Regions from separate parts of the Homo sapiens genome. Here region 2 is linked to region 1. A link means that fine-mapping ties the variant in region 1 to the expression of a gene that starts in the linked region. Tissue or cell type: non-classical monocytes. Region 1 holds a variant in brackets; the other region holds the start of a gene. All regions are shown on one strand. Distances are from middle to middle. Region 1 has its middle 53 kb from the start of SVIL. Region 2 holds the start of SVIL (supervillin).

The links. PIP is the estimated chance that this variant, and not a neighbour inherited with it, causes the effect.
Region 2: SVIL starts here. The variant in region 1 is fine-mapped to the expression of SVIL in non-classical monocytes (Schmiedel 2018, PIP 0.95).

What each region holds. Positions count from the first base shown.
Region 1 is chr10:29,683,960-29,692,464 of GRCh38, reverse strand. It overlaps a transcript of SVIL not described here. Among named protein-coding and RNA genes, the nearest start is that of SVIL, 53 kb to the right of the region's middle. RefSeq lists an enhancer at 3,687-4,305. The variant T/AT (reference allele first, on the strand shown) is at 4,568.
Region 2 is chr10:29,631,101-29,639,605 of GRCh38, reverse strand. SVIL (supervillin) reads left to right here and starts at 4,635. Exons shown (of 38, transcript NM_021738.3): 1 at 4,635-5,186. RefSeq lists an enhancer at 83-584 and a silencer at 4,532-4,826.

The DNA of each region.
Region 1 (8,505 bases):
CTCTTATGAGTTTGTTCCTGTGCTTATTTTCCAGAAGAGGAAAGAGGTTTTGAGAGATTAAACTTGCCCAAGTTAGGAAGTGGCTGAATGCAATGGGATTCCTGAGCTCACCTGCTCATACGGGGTGGAATGTTCTGTCTCCATCCTTCTGCTGAGCAGAACCAGGGAGAGTTCATCGGCTTTGTCATGAAAATCACATCGTCTCATATGGTTGTTAGTGAGTCTAGTAATGCATTTCCTTTAAAAGGCAGTTTTCATGTTGACGAACCTCTACTTGCTTCTACTTGTAAGCCAGAATGCCAAAAACAAGAAACCAAGTTCACGATTCTTTGTTTTCTATGATTTGACGAAGGTTTCTGGCATGAGAACCTTCTTTTTGTAGCTGTAAAGCAACTGAGGTTCTTCACTGAGGTTGACAGTGTCTTAGCTGAGTGAGCTGCGGCAGGGATTCCCCTGTTTCCTGTGTTTCCAGTTGCTTATTGGCTGATCCAACTTCCAGATGGGTGCTAATTTCATTCCAGGAAGGGGACCAGAGCTGAGCAGCTCATCTGTTTTCCTTAGCGTGCTGCTCAGTTATTTGAAAGGGTGATTTGAGCTTATTTTTCTTCTTGTTTGTAGACAACAGTGGTGAGATAATTCGAGTGTCTACCTATAACAGAGTGTTACAGGGATTCCGTAATCTTTGCTCTCCAGCATCTGTTGGCCGGGGTAGATGGGGGGTTTGTTGTCCTTGGAAACCTGGAAGGAACTATTAGTCATGTCTTAATCCTGAGCCATAAATTTACACTCATTTGAGAGATAAGCAAATTTGGCAGAAAGACTGAGTCAAAAATCTTTGTCTTGATCTCTGAGACAGGATTAGTGGACAAACTAAATCATAAATTATTTATTATTTTGGTCACAGAAGCTGGAGCGTCGCCAAGAAAAGAATCTTTAAAAATTATTCATTATTGGGGCTGGGCGCGGTGGCTCACGCCTGTAATCCCAGCACTTTGGGAGGCCCAGGTGGGTGGATCACGAGGTCAGGAGATCGAGACCATCCTGCCTAACACGGTGAAACACCGTCTCTACTAAAAATACAAAAAATTAGCCGGGCGTGGTGGTGGGCGCCTGTAGTCCCAGCTACTCGGGAGGCTGAGGCTGGAGAATGGCGTGAACCTGGGAGGTGGAGCTTGCAGTGAGCCGAGATCGCACCACTGCACTCCAGCCTGGGCGACAGAGTGAGACTCCGTCTCAAAAAAAAAAAAAAAAATTATTCATTATCCAACATACTTTACATTGTTCATTATTGGTCATTTAGGCTCCAAATACTGTTACAGATTGAAAAGTAAGAGAAAAAAAAATCTTTCTACTATAGAACATTGCAGTTTTATTTAATGGGAAAAATATTCTTTTAGTCTTTTTACTCTTCCAGAAGAAAATGTTCCACTGAATAATTGATGCTTCTAAAATGAAGCTTTGCGTTTTATGATACTAGAATAGCTTTCATTATCTGAACGAATGAATGTTAGCCCTGAATATTAACTATCTTCATATAAAAAACATTTGAACGTAAGAAAAATCAGCCAACTTGATTGTTCTCAGGTAAAGTTCAGACCATGAATTATACAGAACCCCAGATAATTGCAGATGATGGAACTAATCACAATATGCAAATCAGCAATGATTAACAACCATATGCAGGTGTTCTCATGGGTTGTGTTCGAATGAAATAGGATATTAAAACTGGAAACTTAATTATGTAATTCAGGATGATAAATACATTATTATGCTTTCACCTTTTTTAAAAGAATTGAGACAAATGTAGTCATTTGTGATTTTGTAATCTTTGTTTTTATTTTATATAAATTAAAATATAAAATTCATTATTTTTTATGACAGACAGGTGAAATAAAAACATAGGGCCTTCTAGTATTGCATATTCTGATCTGAAGTTCTGCTTCTGAAATGTATGCTTGGTTCTAAATGATATAAATAGCCTCCATATTACTGACTTATACTTCTAAAACTTCTTTCTGAAGATTCAACAGCAGATCCTTGTTATCCAAGGATAATGAGAACCAGAAAAAAGGCCATTTAAGGTCAATCCACTTAAATGGGGACCAACATTTCATATAATGAAAAAAAGCTTTGGGACTTTATCATGAAAAAAATTAACTGAAAACTATGAAAATAAGTTATTTTAGCATACATTTATCAAAATTTAGGTGATCATTGTGACTATGGCTAGCTCTTAGAATGAGCAGTGTGAAAGTCAAGTGTTGATTATTTTGAAAGGAGTAAATTTTTTGTATAAAATGAGGCGATTCTACATTTTGGTACTTTTTATATCACAATTGACATTTACATCACAGCATAAAGATGACCAGTGTTACAAAGATATTCAAGGTCTTGGTCATTTTCCTCTGGAGCCGTTTAGATTTTTAAATACTAAAATCACTGTAGAAAGTTCTATCTTGTCACCAACGTTAGATTTTTCTCTGAAGTGATTGTTTCCTAATCAAACTGCTCAGCTCCCACTGGCCATTGTTTTACCTGTTATTGGGGAAATTCTCTAATGCCATTTTGATTAGCCTCATGAAATTCTGTATTTGGGGGAAAGTTTTGCAGTGTTGCTCTGCAGTGGACATACATCTGTGGGAGGTACGAGACAGTCACTAACAGAATTAGGGATAGAGGCTGACTTTGAACAATGATGGATTTTTAAGAGGGACTCAAGTCAAAAAAATGGCTATTTGGAAATATTTTAGTATTTTGAAGGTGTGCTTCCCTGAACAAGCCCATCATTTGTAGGGATTTGGGTCATGAATACTCCAATAACAAGGGCTCCCTGACCTGTGTGTATGAATGCATTGCAGTATGCAGTATGAAAAAGAGACTCGGCTGGGCGCGGTGGCTCGCGCCTGTAATCCCAGCACTTTGGGAGGCCGAGATGGGCAGATCACGAGGTCAGGAGTTCGAGACCAGCCTGGCCAATATAGTGAAACCCCATCTCTACTAAAAATACAAAAAGTTAGCCGGATGTGTTGGTGTGTGCCTGTAATCCCCACTACTCGGGAAGCTGAGGCAGGAGAATCACATGAACCCGGGAGGCGGAGGTTGCAGAGAGCTGAGATCGCGCCAGGGCACTCCAGCCTGGGTGATAGTGCGAGACTCTGTCTCAAAAAAAAAAGAAAACAAAGAAAAGAGACTCATGAGTCGGGGAGATACCAGTTCTAGCCTCAGTTCTGCCAGTGGGTAGCTGTATACGCATGGATGAATCACTTCCTTTTGGCATAAATTTACTTATCTGTGAAAAGAAAAAGTTGAGCTAAGGTCCCTTCTACTCATTCTGTGATTCTAAATTGGATATTTTGAGTTGGGGAAGAGCTATATCACTGTTTGCATAATTCCTAGAGCTTAGCAAATATCAACAACTCCTTCTTTTAGTTTATTTGCACTGTATATATATGTGCCTTTTATGATTTCAGTATCTTCATCCATATGTAATTATGCTCTGGGTAAAGTTGTAAACAGCACTTTGGTAAAATTTTAAATTCTGCTCTTTTCACTAGTCTTATCTCATAAATGTTTGCATATATATTGTAAACTTAACATTTTTCTCTGTTTTCACATTTACCTTTCCTAATAGCTGATAGCACATAATAAGTGTATTAAAACATATACTTAAAACATATTTAAATATATTAAAACATACTGATACACATCCTGATCACTGGGCAACTGAGCATCTCCATACTTCAGAGATTTTTTTATGTTTTTTTGGGCCGTGTTACCCTAGACATTTTTGTAGATAGATAATTTTTTAAAAAGAGCTCCTCACACTTGTAGCTCAGTTCTGTGTGCATTTCAGTGCTCAAATGACTTTTGCCACTGCTGTAAACAGGAAGAAACAAACTAAGGCAAAGAGCCCAGCTAAGTGAAACAGAGAGGAACAAAAGAAAATTAGAACTTGGCTTTTGCTGCTGCCAAGCTGGGCAAATAGCGATCCCAGGGAGCCTGGTGTTAAATAACAAAGAAAGCAGGGAACGAGGCAGAAATCCCAGTGGGATCTGAACGGCATCTTCAGATGCTTGGCTGCCCCTGCCACACTCTAGGGAGCATCTGATCACCTGGGAGGTATGGTGACCTTTGGCTTCTGACGTTGCACTGGTCAGACCAACCGTCTCCAGAGAGCTAAGCCATCAATCATCCCCTGAGGGGAGACAGTCAGGCTCACTGCCTCACCGCCTCGAAGCATCCACAAACTGAATTAGCTAATGCTACATTATTAGACATTTCTGCACTTTTCATTTATATTCAGAAGCTTGGAAATTTTCAATGTGTCTTTGGGGGAAAATAGTTTGTTCAACCATTATAATTAGATTTTCTACCCCTTATCTAGATAAATGAAGCGTAATTGACACTTTCCCCTTCTACCGGGGAAAGTGTCATTGCTGCTTCTGCATATGTGTGTGAACTATTTGCAATGCTTGTTTCTCATGGCTTACCCCAGAACTAGGGCGGTTATTGGGCAAGAAAGGGAACTATCCATTGCTGAAACTGGGAGTAACTTGTGATAACCAAA[T/AT]TAGTGACTGAGGCAAAAGTCTCAGTCGATGAGTTTATTAAGCCATCTTAAGGGCATAATCCAGGGGAAAAACAAATGCCATAGACAGACCTGTGGCTGTTATTCCAAAGAAGTTTTCAGGAGGTTTAGTATTTATACCTTTTCTTAAAGGGGGAAGGCATTGTAGAAAAAGGGGCAGGTAGGTGGTAAAGCAAATTTACGGGGTTTTTGTTTGTTTGTTTATTGAGAAAGAGTCTCAACTCTGTCACCCAGGCTGGAGTGCGGTGGCGCGATCTTGGCTAACTGCAACCTCCCTTCCCAGATTGAAGCAATCCTCCTGCCTCAGCACAAGTGTGCACTACCACGGCTGCCTAATTTTTGTATTTTTGGTAGAGACGGGGGTTTTGCCATGTTGGCAAGGCTGGTTTGAAACTGCTGACCTCAGGTGATTCACCTGCCTCAGCCTCCCAAAGTGTTGGGATTACAGGCATGAACCACCTCACCTGGCCAAACTTGACATTTTTGGGAGATTTTATTTAGTGCCCAGTAAATCTACATTTTGCATACGGTAAGGTGAATGTTTGAAGAGAAAAAAGGGAATAAAGGAAGAATCAATTATGCAGAGTTTTTGGGTAGGTGGAGGAATGATTGATCTGGTCTTGTCTTTGTTCTATACCAGGGAAGATAAGCTTGTAATTGACATTATCAGTGCGGAATCGAATAGACTTTAGTTTTAAGAGCTAGACTTAGATTGTAAACATAAAATTACAATTGGCATGTCCTTGTTTATGGGAGGGCAGCAAAAAGTTTACTTACCTATGGAGGCAGTCCTGAGGCCTTCTCCTCTGGATAATGCTAGTAACAGCTCTTCATTTGAAAGAGGGTGTTGCATGACTCAGCCTCCAGGCTTAATCTTTTATTTTGCGTAAGGAGTTTGGGGGTCTTGAGATTTTTTTAAATATTCCCTTGCACGTGGTTGTTTGCAAGAAGTAATGGCAAAGCCTGGTTAAAGTGGATTCAATCAAAACAATTTTAGTCATGATTTAAATTACCAAGTAGGAAAAATCTAGAGGATTCTAGAAATTGTGTGTCAGTTTCAAATCCTACTGTGCTGGTCATATGGAAGTGAGGAATATTGATAAAGTAAGAAGCAGTGCGGTATTTCCAGAGGTTAAATGCAAACCGATTCATTCCATTTCATTTAAGTATATATTTCTAGGCTTTGGAAATTACATCCTATGATTTTTTTAAAACTTTTCTCCCCCAGATTCTGGCTACATTGGAGATTGGTTGCTTTCTAAAACTGAAGGAGAAGCCCATGAAGAGATGGTGGATTCTCACTGAGTTTTGACTAGCGGAAGAAAAGGTAATTATTGATGATTTCGGAATATGTTTGCAGTATCATGTGGAGTTCAGCTGCAGTAGCAGCAAAGACAAAACTGAGAGTTTTAGACATTTTCTGTTATAATAACAACTGGTACCACTCTAATTTCATTGTGTGAGATGGACTTTTTAAAAACAAAACTTAAAATGTTCTTCTTAAATAAGCTTTTCCAGGTAGGTCTACCTGAGGATTAAGGTGTTACCATCAAAGCAGTTGACTCCTTTCCTTAGACCATGTTCCTGGGCCTGATTCCCAGCTTGTTCTGTGTGACAGCCTCACATTTATAGGGATTATGAAAGAATTTCCAAGATAGAGGTTACAGGAAGACCACTAAAGTGTAGGAACTCATTTTAATCACAGGTTCCTTGCTTGTCCATTCTGAAAGTATCAGTTTATTTTTTCTCTCTACTTCAAGTTGCTCTGCCTAATGATTGGATTTATAGTTAAAAATAAACCATATTTAAATTCATATTGATCTACTTTGTTAGGCAAATTGGTCCTAGGGCCAATGGGTGGAAGATATAAAGAAACAGATTTGAATTCAGTATAAGGAGGATTTTTTGAACATCTGACTGACTAATGAATGGGTTGCCTGGCCTGGACGAAGCTCTCCATTGATGGAGATATTTCTATTGTAAACCAAAGATTAAATTCTAAGCCAAGTGACTGAATGGAACATCCTCTCAGCCAAGGGACCCAACAAAACCTGAAAAATTAGTTCAGATCATGATGGAAAGGGAGGGTCAGGCATGCCTCATTACACTCTCCTCCCTTTGGAGTTCAGGCAAACAACTGACCAGCATTAACTTTTCAAAAGAAGACATACACGTGGCCAACAAGCATGTAAAAAAATGCTCAGCATCACTAATCATTAGAGAAATGCAAGTCAAAACCACAGTGAGATACCATTTCACACCAGTCAGAATGGCTACTGTTAAAAAGTCAGAAAATAACAGATGCCGGCGAGGTTGTGGAGAAAAGGAAATGCTTATACATTGTTGGTGAGAGTGTAAATTAGTTCATCGTGGAAAGCAGTGTGACAATTCCTTGAAGAACTTAAAGCAGAATTAACATTTGACCCAGCAATCCCATTACTGGCTATAGACCCAAACGTGTATACATTGTTCTGCCATAAGGGCACATGTACACATATGTTCATCACAACACCATTCTCAATAGCAAGACATGGAATCAACCTAAATGCCCATCAATGGTAGTAGACTAGATAAAGAACATGTGGTGCATATACACTATGGAATACTACACAGACATGAGAAAGAACGAGATCATGTCCTTTGCAGCAACATGGATAGAGCTGGAGGCCATTATCCTTAGCAAACTAATGCAGGAACAGAAAACCAAATACCGTATGTACTCATGCATAAGTGGAAGCTAAACAATGGGAACACCTGGATACTAGGAGGGGAACAACAGATACTGGGGCCTACTTGAGAGTGGAGGCTTGGGGGAGAGAAAAGATCAGAAAAAATACTCATTGGGTACTACGCTTCCTACCTGGGTGATGATCTGTACACCAAACCCCTGTGACACACAGTTTTACCTACGTAATAAACCTGCACGTGTAATACCCCTGAACCTAAAATAAAAGTTAAAAAAAAATAAAGGTCCTAAGACTGACAGAACAGTAAGATACCAAATTCCAACCTGACTCTACTGTAGCATCATATGGTCCATAGCAGGCACTGAAAACAAATCACAGTATTTTATCCCTTTGACATATTTTGAAATAGCTTTGTAAAGCTGTTTCTTTTGGGAGAAATTTACATTCCATAGAGAATCCTTTCCCTTTCCAGGTCTTTTCCTAATACTGAAGAGATTGGCTGAGAGTCTAGCACCTTTTAACGGTCTGCATAGGAAGCATTGACCATCTATTGCGTTTGGGGGCAGCCACCTATGAGACTATGAGACTTCATCTACATAAGAACTTTTGCCTCCACAACCCCCATATTAACCCAAACACTCCTCTCCTTTCTGTTTATTCCAGGTCTTTAGACAATAACTTAACTCTTTCAACCAATTTCCAGACAGAAAATCTTTGACTCCACCTATGACCTGTAAGCCCCCACCCCCCAAGTTGTCCCGCCTTTCTGGATCGAACCAGTGTATACCTTCCATGTATTGATTAATGTCTTCTGTCTCTGTAAAGCACATAAAACCAAGCTGTAACCCAACCGCCTTGGGTACATGTTCTCAGGAGCTCTTGAGTCTGTGTCACAGGTCATGATCCATAACCTTGGCAAAATAAACTTCTAAATTGACTGAGACCTGTCTCAGATACTTTTTGGTTCACACTATAGAAACTCTGTGTTTGTCTGACAAGGATGTTGCTGCAGAAGAGCCTCCCTGAACTGGAGTTGGTCAAACTGAATCTTCCTAGGTCTATTTTAACCAAAAGGAATTCTACAGTTTCTCTATTGATGGCCCAAAGGAAGCAGAGTTTTTTGGAGTTTTTTTCGGTGGGGGTGGTTGGCTTTTTGTTTTCACACATTAAAAAAATTACGCAAAGATGTTCAACTCAATTATGGCACTTGTAATTTCTGGTGCTTCTGTCATG
Region 2 (8,505 bases), 53 kb after region 1:
TCCCAGCTACTTGGGAGGCTGAGGTAGGAGAATCGCTTGAACTTGGGAGGTGAAGGTTGCAGTGAGCCGAGATCGTGCATTACACTCCAGCCTAGGCAGCAAGAGTGAAACTCCATCTCAAAAAAAAAAAAAAAAAGGGCCAGGCGCAGTGGCTCATGCCTGTAATCTCATCACTTTGGGAGGCTGAGGTGAGCAGATCACGAAATCGAGAGATCGAGACCATCCTGGCCAACATGGTGAAACCCCGTCGTACTAAAAATACAAAACTTAGCTGAGTGTGCTAGCGCACACCTGTAGTCCCAGCTACTCCGGAGGCTGAGGCAGGAGAATCACTTGAACTCGGGAGGAGGAAATTGCAGTGAGCCAAGATCGCGCCACTGCACTCCAGCCTGGTGACAGAGTGAGATTCTGTCTCAAGAAAAAGAAAAACAAAAAAGAAAGGGGAAGAGTTCTAGAGAACAGATTTCAAAAACTTGTTTTCTATTATATTTATAGCAGTATTCACATTGGAAGACCAGTGCAGTGACACACTTTCGTTATCCCAGCTACTCAGGTGGCTGAGGCAGGAGGATCACATAAGCCCAAGAGTTCAAGACCAGCCTGAGCCAAATAGTGAGAACCTGTCTCTAAAAATGAAATATAATCAAAAATTGAGATGACCCGATCTCCTCCCTTTCCAAAAAGTTGTTTTCTTGCTATTTCTCCAGAGTTGGTCAGGTTTTAAAAATTAATAATCTGGGGCAGTAGATGAAATTTCTGAAAATTATGTGCAGGTTTCCTTTTTTATTTTTGGATGGGCCCTAGGTATTAGAGGTGCTCTTTTTAAGTATCTACACAGCCTGCTAAATAAACACATTCAATTGGAAAGCAATGCTTTCCATTTCTTATTCTGTATCAAATATTTTACTTTCGGATTAACTTTCATTCTTATAGGGAAAAATAAATATTTCCAGTTTGAAATTCGTAAGATGGCATTGATAATAAGTAAATCTCTATAGATTTATGTGAAGTACAGTTACAGTAAGTCACCCATTTACAAATGGATTATATTTGAAAGTTTCATTTGAAGTAGGTTTGTTTTTTGGGGTTGGGATGCTTTTTCCTTGGAAAAAATACTTAATTAAACTTTTTTTTTTTTTGAGACAGAGTTTCACCCTTGTCACCCAGGCTGGAGTGCAATGGCATGATCTCAGCTCACTGCAACCTCCGCCTCCCGGGTTCAAGCAATTCTCCTGCCTCAGCCTCCCGAGAAGCTGGGATTACAGGCACATGCCAGCCACCATGCCTGGCTAATTTTTGTATTTTTAGTAGAGACAGGGTTTCACCACGTTGGCTAGGATGTTCTCAATCTCCTGACCTCAGGTAATCCATCCGCCACAGCCTCCCAAAGTTCTGGGATTACAGGTGTGAGCCACCCCGCCCTGCTTAAACTTTTAATTTTGAGATAATTATAGATTCAGATGTAGTTGTAAGAAATAGTACAAAGTGATCATGAGGGCTTTTTACCCAGTTTCTCCAGTGATAACATCTTGCAAAGCTATACAATAGTATCACAACCAGGATATTGACACTGATGTGGTCAATCCAATAGAAGAGTTCCAGAACAGGGGTCTCTCATGTGGCCCTGTTAAACCACCTCATCCCCATCCCTAACCTCTAACAACTCCCATCTCTTCTCCATTTCTATAATGTTGTCATCTGGGAAATGCTATGTAAGTGTACTCGTATAGTATCTAACATTTTGGGATTGGCTTTCTGTCACTCAGCATAATTTAATTCCCTGGATTCTTATCCAGGTCGTGGAACGTACTAATAATTTGTTCCTTTTTATTGTTGAGTAGTATTCCATGGTATGGATGTACCACAATGAGGATTGGGTAGAAGCTCATTGCTTTTGCCTAGGGGTGTCTAATTGCTCTAGCACTGTTTGTTGAATGGCACAGAAATCAGTTTGGCATATTCATGTGGGCCTGTCTCTGGGTTCTCCAGTCTGTTCCACTGATCTATGTTATGTGTCTCTCTTTTTGCCAATGCTGTGTTGTCTTGATTACTGTAGTTATCCAGTAGGCCTTAATATGGGATAGATTCATTGCTCTAACTTTTTTCTTCTTTTGAGACGGAGTCTCACTCTGTGGCCCAGGCTGGAGTGCAGTGGCATGATCTTGGCTCACTGCAACCTCTGCCTCCCAGGATTGGGTTCAAGCGATGCTCCTGCCTTAGCCTCCCTAGTAACTGGGATTACAGGTGTGCACCACCACGCCTGGCTAATTTTTCTGTATTTTTGATAGAGACAGTGTTTCACCATGTTCATTAGGCTGGTCTCGAACTCCTGACCTCAGGTGATCCACCCGCCTCGGCCTACCAAAGTGCTGGGATTACAGGCATGAGCCACCACGCCCAGACTAACTTTTTTCTTCTTTTTCAAGATGGTTTTTAGCTATTCTAGGGCCTGTACCTTTACTATAAATTTTAGAATATCTGCCAAAAATCACTGTGAGGCCAGGCAGGGTGGCTCACACCTGTAATCCTAGCACTTAAGAAGGCCGAAGTGGGAGGACAGCTGGAGCCCAGGAGTTCAAGACAAGCCTGGCCAACCTAATGAGACTCCATCTCTACAAAAACTAAGAAATTAAAAAATTAGCCCAGTGTGGTGGTGCACATCTGTAGCCCCAGATATTCAGGAGGCTGAGGCAGGAGGACTGCCTCCTGGGGAGGTTGAGGCTGCAGTGAGCCATGATTGCACACCTCTACTCCAGCCTGGACAACAGAGCAAGACCATGTCTCAAAAAAACAAAACAAAACAAAACAAAACAAAAAAACCTTGCAAGATTTTGATAGGAATTTTGTTAATCTGTAGATCAGTTTGGGGACAATTGACATCTTTTGTGTGTTGATTTTTCTTCCAATTCATGATTATCATCATTGGAAAGAAGTGAGTATGATGAGTCTTCTAAGCCAGGCAGATAGCAAAAAAATTAGGAAAGTAAATGGATTGCACAGGAAGAATTAACTGGGATTTAAATAATCAAAGACAGAAAGGATATATAAAAGAAGTGACGAAGGAGATTTACCCTATTAGACTCCAGTGTATTAATCTAGGACAGTTTGGTTGCTATGGGGAAGCAGTGTGCAAAAACTTAAGAGGCACACAAAAGACTGATGTTTATTTTGTGGGAGTGAATCTTTTTTTAGGAAGGAAATAGCACTATTGTGGTAACAGTGATTCATTTTCTCCTCCTATCTTCTCTTTACAGAGAAGACCCAAATAGTGAACTGTTTCATGTAAGTTTTTATTTATTTTTGCCCTACTTTTCTCTAGGGAGGGGCTTACCACAGCTTATAAAAATACGTAAAACAAGATCAAATAAACTTTAAAATGAGGAAAAAGCCAATATGGTCCAAGGGAAAAGAAGATCAGGGTCAGGACTGAGATTAGGATGCAAAAGCCATGCTATGAAATTTTGTTTGTTTGTTATCTTGAGATGGGTAAAAAAAAAAAAAAACAGTTGACTGGGACAAATACCCCTAGCACAAAACAGTCATGAAGCCAATGTTTAATTATTATACCTGTCATCTTTTCACCTGGCCTCAGGACTGTCCTCTTAGGGAGAGGCATTGTTCTGTAGGGTTAATTAGTAACAGGAATTTAGATCCTGCTTTGAGAGGCCTCCTGTGCTGGCCGAAGCAGCTGGTGGTCTGAGAACCCTGACACCCAGAGGCATACCACTGGGAGGCCCCGCGCAGCACACAGCTTTTGCTGTACTCCAGCCCAAGTCTTATGGGGTTTGTGGTTTATACTGAAGTTGGTGCAGACAATTAAGACTCTCTGTTCTTGGTACCGACAGGGACAGAGACCTACAATTGTAAGTATTTTGTAAACAGGGTTGTGATATTTGTTTGAGTGTATTCAACATGTCAGTGGCCTTTTAATGTTTAAAAAAATGCATATGGCCATTTAAGAAGTGGTTGTGCTTCATAGTTAATATTTTTTTCATTAGGTTAGGTTCATCTGGTTTTTCAGTGAGGTGAGCTACCTGAGAGCCATAGGAAGATAGATCTTGCCAGTTCAGAGGACTGACTTTGGCTTTAAGAGAAAATATTTGTGTCATTTTCGAGAAAGTACTTCCAGCACAATGCTTTCTTCTGATGATTCATTTTCTACAGTTATTGGAAGTGGGAAGAAATCCACAGAGGTTACAGAATTTGTAAACTTGTAGAGACATGTGCCATTATATCATGCTGTTTCATAGATGTGTATGTCTGTTAGTTACTTTTCGGGCATTCATTGTATATATGTCTGTTACTTACTTTTGGGGTGTTCAGTGTCTGAGCTTTGTCAACGATTGTGTGCTCTTTTTTTAGCCTAAAAAAACTAAGTTAGAGAAATGTTTGCTCATCCAAATCTGTATTGTTGTAGCTTATTCAGTAGACTGCTGTTGTATTTTTAATTTCTCTATACAACAAGCTGAAAGACAGTGTGGACAACCTAATTGCATTTGAAGTAGCTGCTGGCCAGGCCTGCTGCAACAGCTGATGGGCTCCTCTGAATTTCCAGGGCTATTTCTGGTAGATGAGCTGGTATCAAGGCTCTCGAGTTCAGGCCATAAAAGGCCCGTCCCATGTGAAGTTGCTTCACTGCTCTGACTGCGTCCTCCCCAGGCTGAAGTGTCCTCAGGTTTCATGTGGATTTGCCCAGTAATGGATGGCTCCACCGAGGCCAGGTTGGGGAAGTTCAGCCTCGAGGACACTAGGGGACGAAAAACTTCAAAAAGAAGACTCTTTTTATTAATATTTTGGCGTTCTTTTTGGAGAGGAACTTTTGGGATGTAGCCTTTACCTGTTTCCTGAATTTGACATCCAAAAAGCCTTTTGGAAAACACCATTCTAAATTTATCCTGTTCTGAATCATCATCGCTTCTGATAGATGCAGTTGCTTGCTGACATCGTGATCTTTGATTTTGTACAACGCTATTTGGGCTAACTTTTGGGATTTTACTTTGTGCTTAGAATTTGAAAGTAGTATTCATTGGAAAGAGACTCCAAGAAAATACTCGAAGACATCAAAAGCTGGATTCGAGGGTATAACGTGTTTTGTTTTGTTTTTTAAATTAGAAAAATAAGGAATTGCAGTGTGATTTTCTTTCCCCCTTTAACTTAGAGGAACGAGGATTATACAGAAATTTGAAGTAAGTGAAAAATCTTCCTATAAATCTAAATGCAGTAGGTTTTTTTTTGTTGTTTTTGTTTTTGCTTTTTTTTAAGTGCCATCTGTCTGAGCATGTTTCCTGAGGATTTGTTGACTTCAGTCATTGGAAAATTCCTGCCAGCGTTTGCCAGTTACTGCAGCCATTCCTGTAGATACCCTTGGGCATATTTCTTGGGTTGAGAAGGATTGGACTTTTTTTTTTTTTTAAAGGATTTACTTTATGGTAGAGAAAGGTTTAATACTAAAAATTTGATTAATATAACTTAGTACATTCTGTCTAAATGTTAGCACTTAAAGTCTTGGAATTAAAGTATATTCACAATGCAACGTACTTTAATAATCGTAGCACAAGTATGGGGGTGGAGTTCAGAAGGGCAAGTTTTATTTCACTGCCATTATAATTCATGTAAAAATAGAAAATCACCAGTGATCCTTTTGCATAATCTTTGTTCTGAGGGTTCTTTGCCTTGGTACTCTCATTCTTCAGGGCTTGATTTCTAGAACTTGCGATGTTCCAGAATTTATGAGAAAAACCTCACTGTAGGTTCTAGAGTTTGAACTGCATTTTATTTTTAAATTCTCCAAGAAAAAATACTGCATCAGCCTTTTAAAGCCCTGGAGATTGCTATGGTCTCTTTGTAATTTAGCTCAGTGATTTGTTTCTGCTGAAAAACAGCAGTGAACTCTAGAACATAGAAGGCTTATTTGACGTGTTGCTTCTTTGAAAAAAAAAAAAGATTATTTCTTTATACCACATCAGATGGACAAGTACGGGCAGTCATTATTTTTACCAGGTAGGAAAACAGAGTATTTATAGAGAAGAACTTCATCGGTGAATACTGCGAGGGTTCTTCACCGGAGATAGTGTGGCAACCCTAGGGGGCGTTTGAAAATGCATGGGGGTGTTTCAGGTTTTCTCAATGACTCACTGGCATTTGGGAGGATGTGGTTAAGAATTGTAAATGCCCAATTTACATGGTGTAGGGGACAGTCCCATACAGCATTACCCTGGCCAAACTGCTGGTGGTATCCCCTGTTGAGTAAAACTGCAGGATATAAATTGTACCCTCTGTCTCCAAAGAAGAGCAGCCCAGTGCCAGGCAGATGTGTGCTGTCTCTTCTCACCAAAACCAGTGATGTCTTTTTTTTTTTTTTTTTTTTTTGAGATGGAGTCTCGTGCTGTCACCCAGGCTGGAGTGCAGTGGCACGATCTCGGCTCACTGCAACCTCCACCTCCCAGGTTCAAGTGACTCTCCTTGCCTCAACCTCCCAAGTAACTGGGATTACAGGCACCTGGCACCATATCCAGCTAATTTTTTTTTGTATTTTTAGTAGAGACGGGGTTTCACTATGTTGGCCAGGCTGATCTTGAACTCCTGACCTCGTGATCCGCCCACCTTGGGCTCCCAAAGTGCTGGGATTATAGGCGTGAGCCCCTGCACCCGGCACCCGGTGATGTCTTGAGGATCCAGGGCATCAAGTGTGCACTAGTGTCAGAGAATTTGTCTTACAATGGAAACTTTGGAGTCTATACTCTGTGTGTGTGTGTGTGTGTGTGTTAAAGATAATTTATTTGGTCACCTTGATCACTGGATGAGGCTGATGTTATACAAGCTATTGTAGTACATTAGGTGCCTTCCTGCCTACCTTTATTTAGTACTATTGGTGCATTTAATTTTGCCACATGCATAGTCTTCCAAGTGAAATTTGGTTAATGCGCTCAGCTTGCAGTGGACATCAGTCAGCCATTCAACAAACAGTTCTTTATCTTTGCTTCTACTTTGGAGACAGACTGTTTTGTGATAAACAGACTTCTGGAAGACTTTGGAGTTCAATTCAGAGTGAACATCTTTGGCAACACCTGGGGTTATATAGTATTCTTTTTTTCTTTTTTCTTTTTTTTTTTTTTGAGATGGAGTCTTGCTCTGTTGCCCAGGCTGGAGTGCAATGACACAATCTCAGCTCACTGCAACCTCCACCTCTTGGGCTGAAGTGATTCTCCTGCCTCAGCCTCCCTACTAGCTGGGATTACAGGCATATGCCACTGCGCCCAGCTAATTTTTGTATTTTTAGTAGAGACAGGGTTTCATCATGTTGCCCAGGTTGGTCTTGAACTCCTGACCTCAGGTGATCTACCAGCGCTCGGCCTCCCAAAGTTCTGGGATTACAGGCATGAGCCACCACACCCGGCGAGTTATTTAATATTCTACAGTTGAGGAATTGCATCCAAAGGAAAGGGCCCTTGGGATTTTTATAAGGATGTCTGGTGAGCTCCAGCATGCAGGGCTCTCGGGCTACATGGAGCGTTATGGAGAGTAAGCTGCTAGGAGCCTTGTGATTGTTAGGGTACAAAGGCAGCCTTGGAATCATCTCCTGAATCTGCAGCTGCCTGGGATTTTAGGACACTCATTGCAATTTTATGTTAAAGCGCTGATCTCAGGGTGCCTTGCTGTGACTGGGAGTATCCGTAGGTCTAGAACTTTCCAGCAGTTCTGGGCTTCATTGATTTGTGACTCAACTAGGAATCTTCTGGTCACCCTTGACTCCTCTCCCTTTAGGTCCCCGAGGCCTCTGCCCCACCACCTCCTCTTAAGCCTCGCCATCTTTTTTATTTTTTATTTTTTTGAGATGGAGTCTCACTCTGTCAGCCAAGCTGGAGTGCAATGGCACAATCTCGGCTCACTGCAATCCCTGCCTCCCGGGTTCAAGGGATTCTCCTGCCACAGCCTCCTGAGTAGCTGGGATTACAGGTGTCCGCCACCACGCCCGGCTAATTCTTGTATATTTAGTAAAGATGGGGTTTCACCATGTTGGTCAGGCTGGTCTCGAAATCCTGACCTCATGATCTGCCCACCTCGGCCTCCCAAAGTGCTGGGATTACAGGTGTCCGCCACCACGCCCGGCTAATTCTTGTATATTTAGTAAAGATGGGGTTTCACCATGTTGGTCAGGCTGGTCTCGAAATCCTGACCTCATGATCTGCCCACCTCGGCCTCCCAAAGTGCTGGGATTACAGGCATGAGCCACCGCGCCTGGCCTCGCCTCGCCATCTCTTACCTGGGCTACTGCTTTGCCCTTAATGGATCCCTTGGCCCTCGGTTTCTCCTCCGTCTGGTCTAGCCACAGAATGACCTTCCTAAACAAAGATCTCATCTTGCACTCGGCCAGGGCCAAACCCTCATCGTTCCTCACTGCTTACATGCAAAAGCCTGGGCTCTGTAGCCTCCCCTTCAGGGTCTTTCATGCCCCTGGAGTTCTGTTGGCAAGTCTCCCCAAAATGTTGTCTTCTCTTGCCTGCC